Linked DNA regions of Homo sapiens. The protein of the gene in region 1 purifies or fractionates together with the protein of each later gene. This does not show direct contact. Each region holds a gene or a part of one and is shown on either strand. Other genes may lie near its edges.

What was found.
Region 2: the proteins of RANBP3L (region 1) and SPRTN purify together in Homo sapiens (affinity purification with mass spectrometry; 2 studies listed by BioGRID and IntAct, with this or other methods). This does not show direct contact.

Annotation. Positions count from the first base shown.
Region 1 is NC_000005.10:36,256,360-36,265,223, reverse strand, and holds part of RANBP3L (ran-binding protein 3-like), read left to right. Parts: intron 1-125; coding exon 126-265; intron 266-3,181; coding exon 3,182-3,285; intron 3,286-4,359; coding exon 4,360-4,444; intron 4,445-7,667; coding exon 7,668-7,770; intron 7,771-8,152; coding exon 8,153-8,283; intron 8,284-8,864. UniProt on the Homo sapiens protein: Nuclear export factor for BMP-specific SMAD1/5/8 that plays a critical role in terminating BMP signaling and regulating mesenchymal stem cell differentiation by blocking osteoblast differentiation to promote myogenic differention.
Region 2 is NC_000001.11:231,347,058-231,355,921, forward strand, and holds the end of SPRTN (DNA-dependent metalloprotease SPRTN), read left to right. Parts: intron 1-739; coding exon 740-868; intron 869-4,246; coding exon 4,247-4,514; coding exon of another isoform or gene 4,515-4,549; exon of another isoform or gene 4,550-5,552; coding exon 5,553-6,304; 3' UTR 6,305-7,966; downstream 7,967-8,864. UniProt on the Homo sapiens protein: DNA-dependent metalloendopeptidase that mediates the proteolytic cleavage of covalent DNA-protein cross-links (DPCs) during DNA synthesis, thereby playing a key role in maintaining genomic integrity.

The DNA.
Region 1 (8,864 bases):
ATTAATTAACGCTAGTCCCTCATTTAAACATGACTTTAGAAAATAAGAATTATATTAATTAAAAATAGGGAGTAAAGGAATATTTCAGTAAACATATATTTATCCTTTAATTCTATTCTTTTAAGGTCCTGTGAAACATTCTAAACATGTTATTAGACCTGCTATTTTGCAGCTACCTCAAGCTCGAAGTTGTGCAAAAGTAAGAAAAACATTTGGACACAAGGCACTGGAATCTTGCAAGACTAAAGAAAAAACAAATAATAAGGTGAGAAAGCCCAGGATAACGGAACTGACCTCAATCCCTCATCTTTCTTTTTGCAGGTTGTTTGGGGCCCCCATATCCAGAAATAGGAGTTGTCTGAGCTTTGTTTTGTTGTTGGGCTAGATAGCATAAAGCCCTTGGTAAACTTTTCAAAGTTGTACTCTGACATTGGAGAGTTGTAGTCTCACAAATCTGTGGTCTCTCTAAAGTTGTAAAGTTGAGTACTGGGTAGTGGAAATCTGGGGGTCTTGTGCCAGAGCAATGACCCTGTGTGAGAATGGGGACAGCAATGAGGGAGCCAGGGGCCAGAGTCAGTAGTCAAAAAAGAGGCAGGGATTTTCTCTACATCGCCAACTGGTCAACATCACAGTGTATCGTTGCCAGTTTAGGTCATACCAGAGGTTCATTTCAGAGCCAAATTCCAGTATAACAGGAGCAGAGAACTCCCTATACAGTGTAGTTGGGAGGGTTTGGGAAGCCTCTAGAGACAGATAAGAATTCTAACTTCCAACTATGTAGTGTCTGAATCACTCTTTGTAGGCCTTTCTAAACAGACAGTAACTTACACAAGCCGTGCAGATATGGGTTTGGGGATATATTCAATTGCTGTAGTGCTACCTGTCTTCCAGCAGAAGCAGACACAGGAGGAATAGGACTCAAGATAGGTAGGTTGGAATTTGAGAGTTATTCCATCTTAGCCATTTGTTTCCAGCTGAACTACTGAGGATTGGTCACATAGTTTCGCTTTGTTTTCCCTTAGTGAACATAAGGACAGAAACACGGAAGTGTAAAAAAATACCAGATTGGTACTAATCTTGCCTCTGCTGCTATCTTTGTTTATCTAAACAAAGCACCCATTCAACATCTTTTTATATCAGCAAAGTAAGGGACTTGAACTTGATCAGCACTTTCCAATATTTTTATATTCCTAAACTCTTTACTTTGTAAGATATTATTTGGAGAGATCCATTATGAATTTAAAAAATCATTTCATCATTTATGCATGCTATATAAGTAATTTTTAAGTAAAACATGTCTTCAATTTTAGATAAGTATATTATTGTTTTCACTTAAATATAATGTAATAATTATCACCATGTTACATAATTCCTTACTTTTATTTAAGAAGTGAAGTGGCCAGGCGTGGTGGCTCACTCTTTTAATCCTAGCACTTCGGGAGGCCGAGATGAGTGGATCTCTTGAGCTAAAACGTTCCAGACAAGCCTAGGCAATATAGTAAAACACTGTCTTTACAAAAAATACAAAAATTAGCTGGGCATGGTGGCATGTGCCTGTAGTCCTAGCTTGAACCCGGGAAGTGGAGGTTGCAGTGAACCGAGATGGTACCAGCCTGGTGACAGAGCCAGACTGTCTCAAAAAAGAAAAGAGAAAAAAGAAGTGATGCATGGTGTTTAACTTGTTTTAAATTATGTAATAGAAAGTATAATATGTTGACTAATTTCTAAAAAGTTATATTGCATTTGATTTTAAAATGGCATGCACTATAAATATAGAGCAAGATTTTAATTACATGTTATGACATCAAAAATACATCAATATTTCTTTCTTGGCAGAATTTTTGTAAATATTGCATTGCATATTTTAAAATAAAATTTATTAATATATTTCTTCCATTTTCTTCTTAAATGATCCAAGCTTAAGAGAAAATTTCAAGCTATTGTTTATATTTATTTTTGAATAAATTATAAGGTCTAGGGAATAAACCTTATTTCCAGTTATTGAAAAGCCCTACTGTATATGCCCATCATTAAAAAGAAAATTTAATGCCCATCATTAAATTTTCCATTTATTGATCTTTGAAGATCCAGAGACACACTGTATATAAGATCCTATGTAAGAATTTTGACCAAATGAATGTAATTTAAAGATTTTGTGAAAACTATCTCTAGGTGGATTTTGTAGAACCATTATCTTTATATTTCTTATTATCTTGTATATCAAAATCAGATAAATTATTTTCATCCTATCATTAATCAATGGTTACTTACTATGTATAGATTAAACAATATATGCCTAAATAACTATTTTAACCAACATAGGAGTGAAAACTACCATTTTGGCTGAGAGATACATTATCTGAATGACTAGGTAATGAGCATGTACTTCGATCTTTGCCAACCATGGCACATGCTCTCTTGATACATATTTGTCAGTTGTCAAACTCTTGTTAAAAAAGAAAAAGTACTCAAAATTATTTTTATTGATTGAAATAAAAATTTAAGTGGAAACATAACCCATCTGGCTTTAAAAGACACAAACGCCCTGAAACATCTTTGCAAATTCCTGGTCGAGGAAGGAATTGTAAATACTAGATCAGATAATGTATAGGGTTCCTTCCAATTCTAAATTTCCTCACTCTTACATTTATATATTAATTCAGGTATTGTGCATACACATATGTACATAAGGCAAAGTAACTGGATAAGTTACTAGTTGAAAATTTCAAGATAAATAGATGAGTGGGGTTTTCTCTCACATTGGGTGACTAGGATGGTGACATTCTTAGGGTGTTTCCCAGGATTAAATAGTCCTGAAAAGAGCTTTACTAATCCAGAAATGAGAATTAACCCAATTTGACTAAAATGGCAAAAATAAACAAAACATGGTGGGATTTCTGAATATTATGATATTCCGGTATTAGACAGATCGCCACTGTATGTGACCTGGGCAAATTATTTAAGTTTTTTGTGTCAGTTTACTCACCTGTAAAATGTGGACAATAGAATTACAAAGTGTTAGAGTTGTAAGGAGTAAATGAGATCGTACATAAAATGCTTAAGGCAGTACTTAAACATAGTAAGCTTTCAATATATTTAACTATAACTATTGTTTCCTTGTCTGATGGTCCTATAGTAAGGTAGTCTTTATAAACTTTTTGATGGATTTCTTTACTTTCAGATTTCTGAGGGAAATTCCTATTTGTTAAGTGAAAATTTATCAAGGGCTAGAATTTCAGTCCAGCTGTCTACTAACCAGGACTTTTTAGGTGCAACATCAGTAGGGTAAGTTAATGAGAAAATAGAAGCGTTGTCCTTTCATTCTTGCATTCTTTCATTATTATAACCATTCATGGAAAATAATTTTCTGACCTTGTACGGATAAATTGCCAAGATTCCCATTTGAAAGGAGATTTTATAGGAAACACAAGTTTAAAATGTTTTTAAAAATATTTCGATTCTTAAATATTATCATATTAATACTGGATTGTCTTCATTGTTTCATTAACTTGGGTGAGAACTTTTTGAAAATGTATGGCTAAACTTTTATTTAGTTGGACATAAATTATCTGATTAGTAGATTAGGCTCTCTTCCTCTCTCTCTAGCATTTTTTTCTTTTATTTTGGCATTATACATTATTTATTGGCATAGGTTAGATAAGCAACAAGGAAAGCAGTATAAATCTGCAATATTTATTAGTATTACTAGTGATGGATAAATGTTTGATCTGAGAGGTTAAAACTAGCTGTGGATATAAACTGACTCACATGACTGGGCTCTGTCCAGGTGCGGTAGCAGGTGCCTTCTATGTGCATTGGGGATGCAATGCCGAACCCTGAGCACATCTGTCTACAAAGAGCGGGCTTCCGGTCTTCGAGTTTCTCATCATGAAAAACACTTTTAACATTAAAAAAAAGTTTCTGGGAGGCAAAAAATTTAAGCCAATGCACACTCAATTATAACAGACAGGGTTTCGCTTTTGCCCTGGAGATCTCTGGTTGCTAAAACATCAGCCACTTGAGGAAGAGAAGAGGGGAAATTAGATACTAGACAGGGTGTGTTGGAAAAGCAAAAGGGGTTGGGAAGCCCTCCTGGCTGACCACACAGCCAGTGCAGTGATGGGCATGAGGCAGTCAGGACTGGTCTCTGCCAGTGCTGTAAGAGCTGGAAACTATTTTGACAATCACCTCTGGATGCCACTATCTGAATTTTTCCTTCATTTTTCATTAAATTCACACTAACAAAAGTGAGCAGTAAATTTGATTTACATAAATCTATTAAATTATCTGATTATTTCAAGGTTTAAAATGGCTTTATCTATGTATTTAAAATAGTAAATGCTTATTTCATTTTCTTAGATGTCAACCAAATGAAGATAAATGTTCTTTTAAAAGCTGCAGTTCCAATTTTGTTTTTGGAGAAAACATGGTAGAAAGAGTTTTGGTAAGATTTTGGTATATGTTTCTATTACTATATACAGAGCTGTCACTTTAAATTTCTAAAGGTAAATTAATTAAAAGTAATATTAAATTGAATTATACTTTTTAACTCCTGAGTTCAAACGCACATTTTCTTTCTTTAACTGGAAAGATTCTCCTGGGAAGCATGTCCTAGTTGTTAAAATAATAGAAACCCACAGAGGAAGGGAACTGTATAATTATAACATTATTACTGATGTGAAATATTAAATAGTTCTTTGACTTGTGTTAAACCAAAAGTACCCAAGGAAATCCCAGAATCATCTGCAATAGTTAGATAAGCTCAGTTGGTAATGATAGTTTAATAGTTTGTCGATGTCATCATTTTGTAACAAGATGCATTTAAAATTATTTGCCAGTTTGGTTTTTTTTTTTTTTTTTTTTGAGACAGAGTCTCGCTCTGTCACCCAGGCTGGAGTGCAGTGGTCCGATCTCTGCTCACTGCAACCTCCGCCTCCTGGGTTCAAGTGATTCTCCTGCCTCAGCCTCCTGAGTAGCTGGGACTACAGGCGCGTGCCACCACACCTGGCTAATTTTTTTTTTTTTTGTATTTTTAGTAGAGATGGGGTTTCACTGTCTTAGCCAGGATGGTCTCGATCTCCTGACCTCGTCATCTGCCCACCTCAGCTTCCCAAAGTGCTGGGATTATAAGCTTGAGCCAATTTGTTCTTATCAGTTAACCACAACCCTAACTTCAAGCTCTTACATCAAAAAGCATTATTATAACTTTCTTTTGCTAGCTTTCAGAGAAAATTCATAGTGCTTTACTTGCCTAGGAGAATATACTTGCCTAGTGAAAACCCCTCACGTTATTACCATCATCCTTATTTAATGTTCAGCATCCTCTTGCAATGAGGTAACTGCTTCTCTGATCCCCACAGAACTCTGATCTACAGTGGAAAATTTTACAGAAAAGTGAAAGCTGTGGAAAACCATGCCTATGGTTTTATCTGGTCCATCACATCTTCATACCTTTTCCAGCTTTCACTCAAGTCAGGAAAGTGGCTGAGATAGCTCGAACGTGCCTAGCTTGTCTCAGGGATACCAGTTACATGAAGAATCCCAAAGAAGCTGCAGAGATTTAAAAACCCATGTACGGATTTAGATTAATAAAAGAACCAACTCGTTAAGCCAGTTCATTCCATTTTTTTTTTTTTTTTTTAAGATGAGGTCTTGCTCTTTCACCTAGGCTGGAGTGCAGTGGCACGATCTCGGCTCACTGCAACCTCTGTCTCCCTGGCTCAAGGGATCCTCCCACTTCAGCCTCCCGAGTAGGTGGGACCACAGGCACGTACCACCACACCTGGCTAACTTTTTGTATTTTTGGTAGAGACGGGGTTTCACCATGTTGCCAGGCTGGCCTCAAATTCCTGAGCTCAAGCGATCCACCCGCCTCAGGCTCCCTAAGTGCTGGGATTATAGGCATGAGACACTGCGCCCAAACTCATTACAAAATTTTTAGGGCTTTCATATGTTAGTCATTTTAAAGGCTTAGTTTATTTAGGAACCCTTCTGTCATTCCCAAAATGAAGGTCAACTCACCAATCCTAGAGCTGTGACCTATGCCTTTGGATGTGAACCAAAATGGACCAGCCTCCATGGTGAATTTACAGGCAGTATATTTAGGCACATTTATTCCATATCATTTATTTCTAAGTTTGACACCAGATTAGCCACAGTGTCTGTAAAATGTCAGACAATGCTTTCCAAACCTCACAGGATCAACTTAACATTCAACTCAATTTACCAAACATGTACTGAGTTCTTACGGTATATAAAGCATTGATCTCAAATTTGGCTGCCTGTTAGAATCATTCTTTTAAGGATTTCCTATGCCTGGCCTCATCCCAGACCAATTAGCTCAGAATGCCTGTGGGTGAGGCCAGGTGTCAAGTGATTCCAATGTACAGGCAGGTTTGAAAACCACCTAAGTGGTTATGCAAGCTAAAGGAGACACTGGGCCCTAAAGGTGCTTATAATCTAATAAGAGCAGGCAGAGAGATACCTATACAAATAAACTATAGTCAGGACTACGGGTTTTGTTTGAGAAGGCACTTGTGCACATTTCCTGTGGGCATTTTAAATGCTTAAAGGAACCTCAACTTATAAAGGCTTATAAAGGAACCTGAACTATCTCTTTAAGTTGGTAATATCTTAAGGATAACAGGAATTATAGAGATAATTTGTGTTTGTCCTCTAATCCTGTAAATTTTTGGCCTTGTGATTTGGGGGCCAGGATGCACTCTTGGCTTATTGGCTGACTATGTGTTTTTAGAGTGAGTCATTTAAACTTTCTGTGCCTCAGTTTCTATTTTCTTAAAATGGAAATAATTATACCCATCTCTACCAATTTTGAGGGAATATCTTGATGTCTAGTTAAGTAATGTGAAAGAATTTTCAGTTCATAAGGGAAAAAATGTAAGCCTAAGTTCTTAAGTATCATTGTTCCAGTTCTCTGTGTTTTGCAGAGGGCTACACATTATCACAAATGTCATGTCAATTAGTCTTTTTTTGTGCAGGCCTTGATTACAACAGACATACAGAGCCCCAAGTAGCCTTAAAAGCTACTGTTGGCAAAATCGTCTGGGAGGAAAAGTTAGGATTTTTTCTAAAAAGATGTTCTCTGAGACATCTTGTGGGGGTCTCTGGATAACTTTTTTGTTTTTTTCCATAAAGTGGATAGCAAGAGTAAATTTCTGGGGATACTGAAATACCTTGGTATATGTTTCTATTACTATATACAGAGCTGTCACTTTAAATTTCTAATGGTAAATTAATTAAAAGTAATATTAAATTGAATTATACTTTTTAACTCCCGAGTTCAAAGGCACATTTTCTTTCTTTTCTTTCTTTTGTACCTCCTGGGCATCAGTTTAGTCTAGTGAGAGTGTGGAACATCTATTACCTTCTTTTGTGCCCTTAGACCTTTCCCATTGCCTCCGGGACTAGATCCCACCTGAAGTAGGCTGGTGGTAACTAGATTATGTTTTCTGAGGATTAGAACTAAGGCTTTCTAACAATAGAGACGATTTCTCTGTTCAGCACACAGAAAGTCCAAAACAAAAACATACCAGCTAGGTTTGCTTGCTGTGTTGAAACAGAAAAACGGAAGTGTCTTACTGCAAACATAGTAGGGATAAAATTAAAACTTTTATTAAATAAAATAATGCATCTTTTTCCGCTCTCAGGGTACTCAAAAACTCACCCAGCCTCAACTTGAAAATGATTCATATGCCAAGGAAAAACCATTCAAATCCATTCCGAAATTTCCTGTCAACTTTTTAAGTTCAAGTAAGAATTCTTTCATTTGTAAAACATTAGATTCACCTAGTTTGTCTCCTGTTTTTTATTTATTAACATTAATATTTAATATAAGTAAAATTAATATTTACTATAAGATTTAAAAAACCAATAATCCAGTGTTTCAAATATTTTGGTAAAGGTTAAAGCATATAAATATGATTATCTGATATATAAGCTTTAAAAATTTTTTGAGTTAATGCTATGGGGGAATTGATAAGGAGATTTTACACCAACTCAAGCAGTCTGAATTTTTAGAATCACTTACTACTAGAAGAAGCCAAGTAGATATATGTGGTAATAGGGGCAACAAAGAACTTTCACAGTAGAGAAAATGGGGACTTTTAAGTGTTTTTTCCCCATTTTCTCTTAGGAACAGACTCTATTAAAAATACTTCCCTAATTGAATCAGCTGCTGCATTCTCTTCCCAACCATCACGAAAATGCTTGCTGGAGAAAATTGATGTTATAACAGGGGAGGAAACAGAACATAATGTGTTAAAGGTCTGTATATCATGTTTTACTCTTTCTGGTAGCATTTACATACTTGGAATAAAGTTAACATGAGAAGAGGCATCTTTAAAAATACAGACAGAAGTATAGTTTTCATGGAGACTAAGTTGCTTAAATAAAAATGTTGGATGCTCTCAAAAATTGAACCAATAATTTATTTTCTTCTTGTGTTTGTATGTGTACCTGGCAGGAAAATGGGTTGTTAGGTTTACAACTATTCACATTAGTCCCTTAGAAATAAGACAGCCAAGTATCCTGCTTTAATACTTGCTTTTACAATTGGTGCTATTATTGTGATTAAATAATTCTACTTACACGTTTAACAATGTTGATAACTTGATTTCAGTCCAATAAGAATTTCGTTTTCCTTCTAAAAAAGTTTAGAATTTCATATAAAATTTAGCTTCCTTTAAAAAAGTTTAGAATTTCATGTAATTCAAGAATTTCACAGATACACACTACAGTATCACAGGATTTTAATGTTGAGTAGTATCACCATCAGCACAAGCACATGAAATGTAATTACTACAACTTTACCCTTTCCCAACAAGGCAGAAATTTCCCTTTGCCTT
Region 2 (8,864 bases), on another chromosome or scaffold:
AGCTTTAGATGTTACACAAATTTGAGTACCCCTTCTCTGAAATGCCTGGGACTAGAAGTGTCTTGGATTTCAGATTTATTTGGATTTTGGAATATTTGTGTTATTCTTACAGGTGGAGCATCCCAAATCTGAAAATCCGCAATGCTCCAATGAGCATTTCCTTTTGAGTGTCATGTCATTGCTCAAGAGTTTCTGATTTTGGAGCATTTTGGATTTTCAGAGTTGGGATGCTCAACTCATATGCAATATTTTGTGAATGAGTGCTTATATAATTTTTATAGAATGAGGTGGGTTTTTTGTTGTTGTTGTTTTGTTTTTGTGAGACAGTGTCTCATTCTGTCCCCCAGGCTGGAGTGCAGTGGCACAATCACAGCTCACTGCAGCGTCAACCTCCCCAGGCTCAGAGGATCCTCCCACCTCAGCCTCCTGAGTGTAGCTGGGATTACAGGCATGCACCACCACACCTGGCTAATTTTTGTATTTTTTTGTAGAGACAGGGTTTCGCCATGTTGCCCAGGTTGGTCTCCAACCCCTGGGCTCAAGTGACCCTCCCACCTTTGCCTCCCAAAGTGTTGGGATTACAGGTGTGAGCCACTGCACCCGGCCTAGAATGAGTTTTATCAGTTCTGAAGGAAGCCTGTGATACAGAAAAGGTTAGACACCAGATAGAATAAGAAAATTTATATTTTCCAAAGTGTCATACAGACTCTAAAACTAATTTGAATATTTTATGTTCCAGACCCTCCTGCATGAAATGATACATGCCTATTTATTTGTCACTAATAACGACAAAGACCGAGAAGGGCATGGTCCAGAATTTTGTAAACATATGCATCGCATCAACAGCCTGACTGGAGCCAATATAACGGTATAGAAAGCCATATCTATTTATGATGTTTAGTAGTTGTTTATTCAATAACTCCTGAGATTTAATTAAAAGTAGAGAACTAGGTAGAAACAAGTATCTTTGAGGATTTTCCACAGCGAACGAGAGGCCTAGAGAAGCAAATTGGCTTGTCTGGGACTACATGGTGGAATGGCAGCAGAGCCAGTGATATCCCTGAGGCCTCTGACCTCTTCTGAGTCAACATTTTACACACAGGTAATTCAGGCCTGCAGTACGTCACTTCTGGAATCATCATGATCTCTTAACTTTGTTTCCTTATTATTGTCTTTTTTAGTCCATCCTGTATCCTGCTACCATTGCAGATGTCATTCCCTCATCAGAATTCTTCTTTGATTCATATCTCTGTATAGCATTGTAGGAGATAGCAAAGCCTCAGGTTCAAAAAGCTGGAGGCGTCAGGCTGCTTGGATTCAAATCCTGGCTCCACCAATTATTAACTTTCCTATGCCTCATTTTATACCCATGGCAAATGAGAGTAGTAACAATACCTATCTGTTGGATCCTTGTGAGGAGAAAGGATTAAAGGAGAAAGCACATCAAAACATTTTAGCCCAATCTGACACTAATTAAATATTAGTTTTATTGTATTCATTTTATTAAATAACCTTGTTCCTTTTTTACTGCCTCCAACTCTGCTGCCTGTGTCCTGTCTCTTTAACTGCACTTTTGACCTCCCTGCCTTTCCTCAGGTGTAGCTTCCCTGAGGCGTGCCACTGCTCTGTTTTGTGTCCGAATGCTTTTCATCGTTCCAGTGGCATCTCATTTCTCCCTCTTTTGAATCCTCAGCAGATATTTAAGCTATTACAATTTTTTATGCTACTTTCATACTTTTGAACGCAGGGTAGGTCTTGCCCATCTTTATAGTACATCTGTATAAGGTGTATAATGTACTGAATTGAATATTAATAGGATAGATTAAATTCTTTCTTATGTTTGGGTATTTCCTTCCTTTAAAAGGCAACAAAATCCACTGTGATAGAAAATGAACAGTGCTCAACCGCCATGTTTTGTTTATTTATTTATTTAAGATAGGGTCTTGCTCTGTTGCCCAGGCTGGATGCAGTGGTGCATTCATAGCCCACTGCAGATTCAACCTCCTGGGCTTAAGTGATCCTCCCACCTCAGCCTCCTGAGTAGCTGGGGCTACAGATGTGTGCCACCATGTCAAGCTAATTTAAAAAAAAATTTTTTTTTTTAGAGACAGGGTCTCACCATGTTGCCCAGGCTGGTCTTGAACTCATGGGTTCAAGTGATCCTCCCATCTCAGCCTCCCAAAGTGGTGGGATTATAGACATGAGCTACCATGCCTGGCCTCTCCATGTATTACTATTTTCTAGCTATCAGTTTTAATTTTCTAAAGACTTCATTTCATTATTAGACACAGTTACTTCAACATTAGGAAAGTGTCTTGCAGTTTTTAAAAAAATCAGACATAAAATCCGGGTTAGCAAGAGAATTATAGACTTGCTTGTATAAAATACATTAAGTTTCTTAACCAGAACTTATACTTTAAGCAAAGCCCTTGTATACGTCCCATTGTTCAGCTGGAAGAGTATCTGTTCTTTTATCTTAGATATCTGTGTGTTTTTATTTAGGAGAGGTTGTAAGGAGTGAACACTCCTTGCTTTTACAGGTTACATCCTGTTATAAGGAACTCTGCAGGGTATCTACATTGTAGAGTAATTTTATTTTAGTGACTACATTGTTAAAAGTCACATTCCCAAGCGTTAGGAGTTACAGGAATTGGAAGCAGAACAGATCCAGGCTGGGTGTGGTGGCTCACGCCTGTAATCCCAGCACTTTGGGAGGCCGAAGTGGGAGGGTAACTTGAGCCCAGGTGTTTGAGATCAGCCTGGGCAATTTAGTGAGACCTTGTTTCCACAAAAAAAATTCAAAAATTAGCTAATCGTGGTAGCTCACGCCTGTATTCGCGGCTACTCGAGAGGCAGAGGTGGAAGGATCACTTGAGCCTGGGAGGCGGAGGTTGCAGTGAGCCAGGTTCATGCCACCTCACTCCAGCCTGGGCAAACAGAGCAAGTCCATGTCACAGAACAAACAAACAAAACAGATCCATTTGTCTCTCTTTTTGGGTAATGAATTAAGAGTTCTGAACATAATAGAGTGCGTGGTTTCCCGTGCTTCTTTGCCTTAAAACCTATGTCCTTCAGTCCCTTCTGCATTTAATATAATGTGCATTCTTTGCATGCTTACCAAGTAGAAATTTTTTGCTTAGGATGGAGCGATAGTGAGTTTAAAACTATCTATAGAGTTATAGAAAGCTTAGCATTCTTTCCCACAAGGGGAATTTATTAGAAAGCTAAATGTCTTTGGTAAAACACCAAAATCTTACATACAGATGCTTCTCACTCTTACACAGAGAGTTCCACTGAGAAGGCAGAAGAATAAGGTGCCCATAGTCATTTAGGAGTCATTTCAAATGGTGCTCTATAGTCTTCAGTGCCACCATGCTGGGAGGGCTGACCCTCTTTTCAGTCAGGTCTTTTCCCTTACCTGTTTTCTGCTTGGGTTCCAAATAGGATTTTTGTCTAGAGGGTGAAAAAGAAGGCATCCTACTTAAGGCCTGAAAAGCACACTTCAGAGAATTTTATTTGACTCAATGAATGATGCTTTTCTGACTGAGCACCTTCTTGGTGCCAAAAGCACTATATTAGCCACTAGGGACACAAAAAATTAAAACATTCAGATCCTGGAGAACTTTTCAGTCTGGTAATAGAAATATTTATAAACAGATAAAATGGTACCTCATAAGGCTTATTACAGAGACATAAGCACAGAACTTGGAGAATGTGGAGAGTGAGCTTAGCAGAAGCTTCACTGGGTAAGATACTTGTGTTGTTAGCGTCAGTCAGGCATTTATAGGGAGTAATGTAGTCCTTTAGAACCCTTTGCTATTTTTACTTATAGGGAAAACTTCAATTTAGCAGTGGGAATGATTCTTATTTTAGTATGGTATTACATAAAATCTTATCTTTATCCTAATTTTTGATCATTTACAAATTTGATTTCTGAAACTTTTAGTGTTCATGAAGATTTTCTGTGGTTTTGTTTTTAAAAGATTTTTTTGTCCTCTAATCCCATGTGCATCTATCTTTACACAGTTTATGAAGTATTAACTGCTGCTGTTTCCCATTAAAATCAACTTTTGAACAGAAACTAAATATAGTTGCTTTCTCTCCTAAAATAGAACTTTTCAGAAAGCTCTGGGAAAGTTTCAAAAATTAAAAAAAAAAAAAAAAAAAAAAAAGACTGCTTATGTAAATTGTTTTCTTGCAGTTGTTAACTTGCTTATTGAATACTAAAAATTCTGTCTCCACTCAGGTATACCATACTTTTCACGATGAGGTGGATGAGTATCGGCGACACTGGTGGCGCTGCAATGGGCCGTGCCAGCACAGGCCACCGTATTACGGCTATGTCAAACGAGCTACTAACAGGGAACCCTCTGCTCATGACTATTGGTGGGCTGAGCACCAGAAAACCTGTGGAGGCACTTACATAAAAATCAAGGAACCAGAGAATTACTCAAAAAAAGGCAAAGGAAAGGCAAAACTAGGAAAGGAACCAGTATTGGCCGCAGAGAATAAAGGTACCTTCGTGTATATTCTTCTGATTTTTATGTGACCATAGCTATGATGTAAAGACAATACTGTCCTTCAGAGAACTGGTATTAAGATAAACTTAAGGATCGTTTCTGGTGTAGAAGTCTTCAAGTGTAGACTTAAGGAAAAAATCCCACTGTCCATGAAATGATGGTAGGAAAACAGACTTTGCTCTGTACAGAAGTAAGTAAAAGTAGGAATAGTTTCCATGGATATTTTTATTTTTATTAACTTTTTTCAGTTTCTTTTTATTCAAAGAAACAAAATTCAATCTCTGATAATATTTGAGGTAAAGTTCCTTTCCCTATCTTGACTCACTGAGTTATTAGGAAACAGAAGGCAAAAAGATTGTCAAAATAAAAACAATAATTCAAGTAACAATGCCCGGAATATACGTCCTAACTACACCCCTTCCTATCAGCTGGATTCTATCCAAGTGACTCTATTGATGTATGTATGTTCATTCAAAGAATGGGAAAAGGATATGACATATATTTGCCAGTACTTCATCTTCAAGATTTACCCTTTTCCTGTGAAGTTCAGAGTTACTGAAGATGCTTCTTCCCTTGGGAAGTTGTTGACCCAAGAACATAGGTTATATTTCCCAAATCTTTAATTATTGAGTGAAAGAGCTATAGATGAATTGATATGGAAAGACCGTATCTTCATTTTCGTGAGTAGAAGGAAAGATAAGAATGAGGCAGCAGATTTTCCCTCCTGGAATTACACATAAAGGACACTAAGCAATTTTCAAGGTAAATGTTGCCTTGTTGTTGGTCTTTGGCATGATAAGATTCTTTATTTAAATATGAGAGAATTTTTTTTTATCCTTTATATTCTCTCAATATCAGAACTCCTGAATTCTGAAGATTGCCCTCCTCCCATTAATAGGATTGTATGGATGTAAGATGGAATAAAATACTAGTTCTTCATTTTGAGAAAACTGTACATTAGTTTAATGTTTGTTACTGTATTTCTTTTGAGTTGAGGCACTTACATAACAATCTTCTTTGCTTTTTTGGCAGATAAACCCAACAGAGGTGAGGCCCAGCTAGTAATCCCTTTTAGTGGGAAAGGATATGTTCTAGGAGAAACAAGCAATTTACCTTCACCTGGGAAACTGATCACTTCACATGCCATTAATAAAACCCAAGATCTTTTAAATCAAAACCATTCAGCAAATGCTGTAAGACCTAATTCTAAAATCAAGGTGAAATTTGAACAGAATGGTTCAAGTAAAAATTCTCATCTGGTCTCCCCTGCTGTTAGTAACAGTCACCAAAATGTTCTAAGCAACTACTTTCCTAGAGTATCATTTGCCAACCAAAAGGCTTTCAGAGGTGTGAATGGATCTCCAAGGATAAGTGTAACAGTTGGCAACATCCCTAAAAACTCAGTCTCTTCTAGTTCTCAGAGAAGGGTTTCATCTTCTAAGATATCCCTAAGAAATTCTTCAAAAGTAACGGAATCAGCATCTGTGATGCCATCCCAGGATGTGAGTGGGTCTGAAGATACATTCCCAAATAAACGACCTAGGCTAGAAGATAAGACTGTTTTTGACAATTTTTTTATCAAGAAAGAGCAAATAAAAAGCAGTGGTAATGATCCAAAGTATAGTACAACCACAGCTCAGAATTCCAGCAGTTCATCCAGTCAGAGCAAAATGGTTAATTGCCCAGTTTGTCAGAATGAAGTTCTGGAGTCTCAGATTAATGAGCACTTGGACTGGTGCCTTGAAGGTGACAGCATCAAAGTCAAAAGCGAAGAAAGTCTTTGAAAAAGGTTTCAAAGTCTCAAGTACCACCTGTATTATCTCACTAATGTGCTATGTCAGCCAGTCAGGAAGTTCTGGTTAATACTAAGATTTGTAGGTTATAATCTAGTTCACATAACCAATAGAAAGTGTCCTATTTTATATATACGCATATAAGATTGTAATTTTAAGATGTTTTGTGTCTCAGGGTGCTACATTCACTCTTGCCTTAGGTATACTGTAACCCAGGTTCTGCCTGTCGTGTATAAGTTTTAGATACTTTTGTTCTTTCTTGCTCTTAAGGATTTTAAAAACCTGTTAATCTTTTTATTTGTATACTTTCCTAAAAATATTCATATGGGGAATCCTGTCAGGTGTTTGGTTATATTGACTATTTATTAATAGTATTAGAACTCATTCCCTGAACTGATGTAAATCTTCATAGTGTCAGACATACTGACCAAAACCACAATCTAGACTACAAAGTATATTGTTTTAGAGTACTCAAATTGTATTATTTATTAATTTTTTTGTTTGCAAAATCTTAACAGGAACTGTATTTTCTATATTTTAAAGAATTTTATTTGTCCCACTTTTACTAAACAGTGGCAGCAGATTTTAAGTTAAAGAATATGGAATATAGTAAAATAAGTAAATTTCTTTTGGAATATTTTTAGTAACAAATAGCCACTATAATTCTGTAGGCCAAATTTTATATTGAGTTTAGCTGTTTTCTCAAAATTTAGCAGAGTGGTTAAAATTCTGTGCTGATAAGTAACTGATACATATAACATAAACATAACAAAGTTGCCTAGTTGATGTAACAGTGGAAAGTTATCTGGAAATAGTATTTTGAACTTTAAGCCAAGTTTAAAACATTATAATAAAAGGAATACCATTTGTGCATTTTAAGTAATCTTTTTTAAAAAAAATATTTTCCATGTTATAGGGAAAGGACAAAGAGACTTTTATCAGTTTGCTTTTTGTCTTGTGGCTGTACATGCTGTTGGCATAGCCCTAACACAGTTGTTCACAAGTTTTCTTTTTTCTTGTTGCAATTTTCCTTCACTTTGTTGTAATACAGGTGCACAAATCTTAAGTGCACAGCTGGGTAAACTTTTACAGTGTTCACCTGTGTAACTACCACCCGGATCAAGTTAGAGAACACTTCCATTGCCACAGAAGGCTTCCTATAGGTGTCTGTTCCCAGTTGATACCCATGACCCTCACCACCTCCAGAGGTCCCCACTGTTTTCACCCCATCGTCGCAGATTATTTTTTAATTTTATAATGTAGTATCTTTGTTCCTATGTATAGCAGGAGTTCATTTTCATTGCTCTTGCATTTGTATGAATATACTAGAATTTATTCATCCATTCTAATGTTAATGGACATTTGAATTATTTCCAGTTTGGGGCTGTTAAGCATAATGCTGCTAAGAACATTCTTATCTTTTCTGTTGGGTATATATACAGGAATGGAATTGCTGAGTCACGGGGTATATTTCTGTTTAGCTTTAGTAAATTCTGCCAGTTTACACTCCTACCAGCAATGTATGAGAGTTTTAGTTGTTCACCATTCATAACACTGTTAGCAGCCCTTTTCGTTTTAGACTGGTTGGCTGTTCACAAATTTTGATATTCCTTAAAGCATTAAAACATTTTAATAAATACTTATAAATAGGTATTAAAATGTATATTATGTTCAATATATAGTTATATTTTCATAGAGGATCATTTCTCTAAATGAATGTAACAAATTATGTGTAATTAAATGCTTCCTGAGCCAAAACCACACAAGGTTCTGGGGCTGTGAAGTAGCTGAGATGGTCCATGTCCTCAAGGAGCTTTACAGCATAGTTGGGGAGTAAGACAAATGCACATTAATCTCCTTAGAGTTTGCTAAGTGCTATGACAAGGGTTTTTGCTGGGTGCTGTGGGTAAACTGTAGGAAGAAAAATTAGCTCTGCCCAGGACTTCGGGGGATGTTTCTTGGAGGAGACAACATCCAAAGTTGAATCATGTAGAGTGAGTCGAGTTAGCCTGGTTAAAGAAGGGTGGGGAAGAACCTTTCAAAGGGAAGAAGGAACACAAAGTCATGTTCCGAGGGAACTGAATGCTATTCCAAGTGAATAGAGTAAAATGTGAGGGGCAAAATGGCCAAAGGAGAGATGGCAGATAGGACAGATCTAGCTAAGTAGTACAAGTTTGAGGCCAGGGATCTCATGTTCCTCACTTTATGTCTGGTTTGTGTGATACCTGCTAATAAGCATCTCTTAATTAAGGTGGGGCTTGGAAAGGCTTATAAGCCAGTCGAGGACATGTTGAGAAGTGTTTCCAATGGATTTTTCTGGGGACAGCATAGATAAGAGGGGGAAGGGTAGTGGCAGGGAGGGAGAGGAAGAGACAATTTTTTGAGAAACAGGTAGTAAAGTCAGGAGTTGGTTTCAGGTTCTAGGGAATGATGGAAATAGTTGAGAAAATGGAACTCAATTTGAAATAAGCCTTACTACATCTGTTAAACACTTGAGAAAATTTGCACCCTAAAAATTCTGATATTCCCCCAAATATGTCATTCATAATAG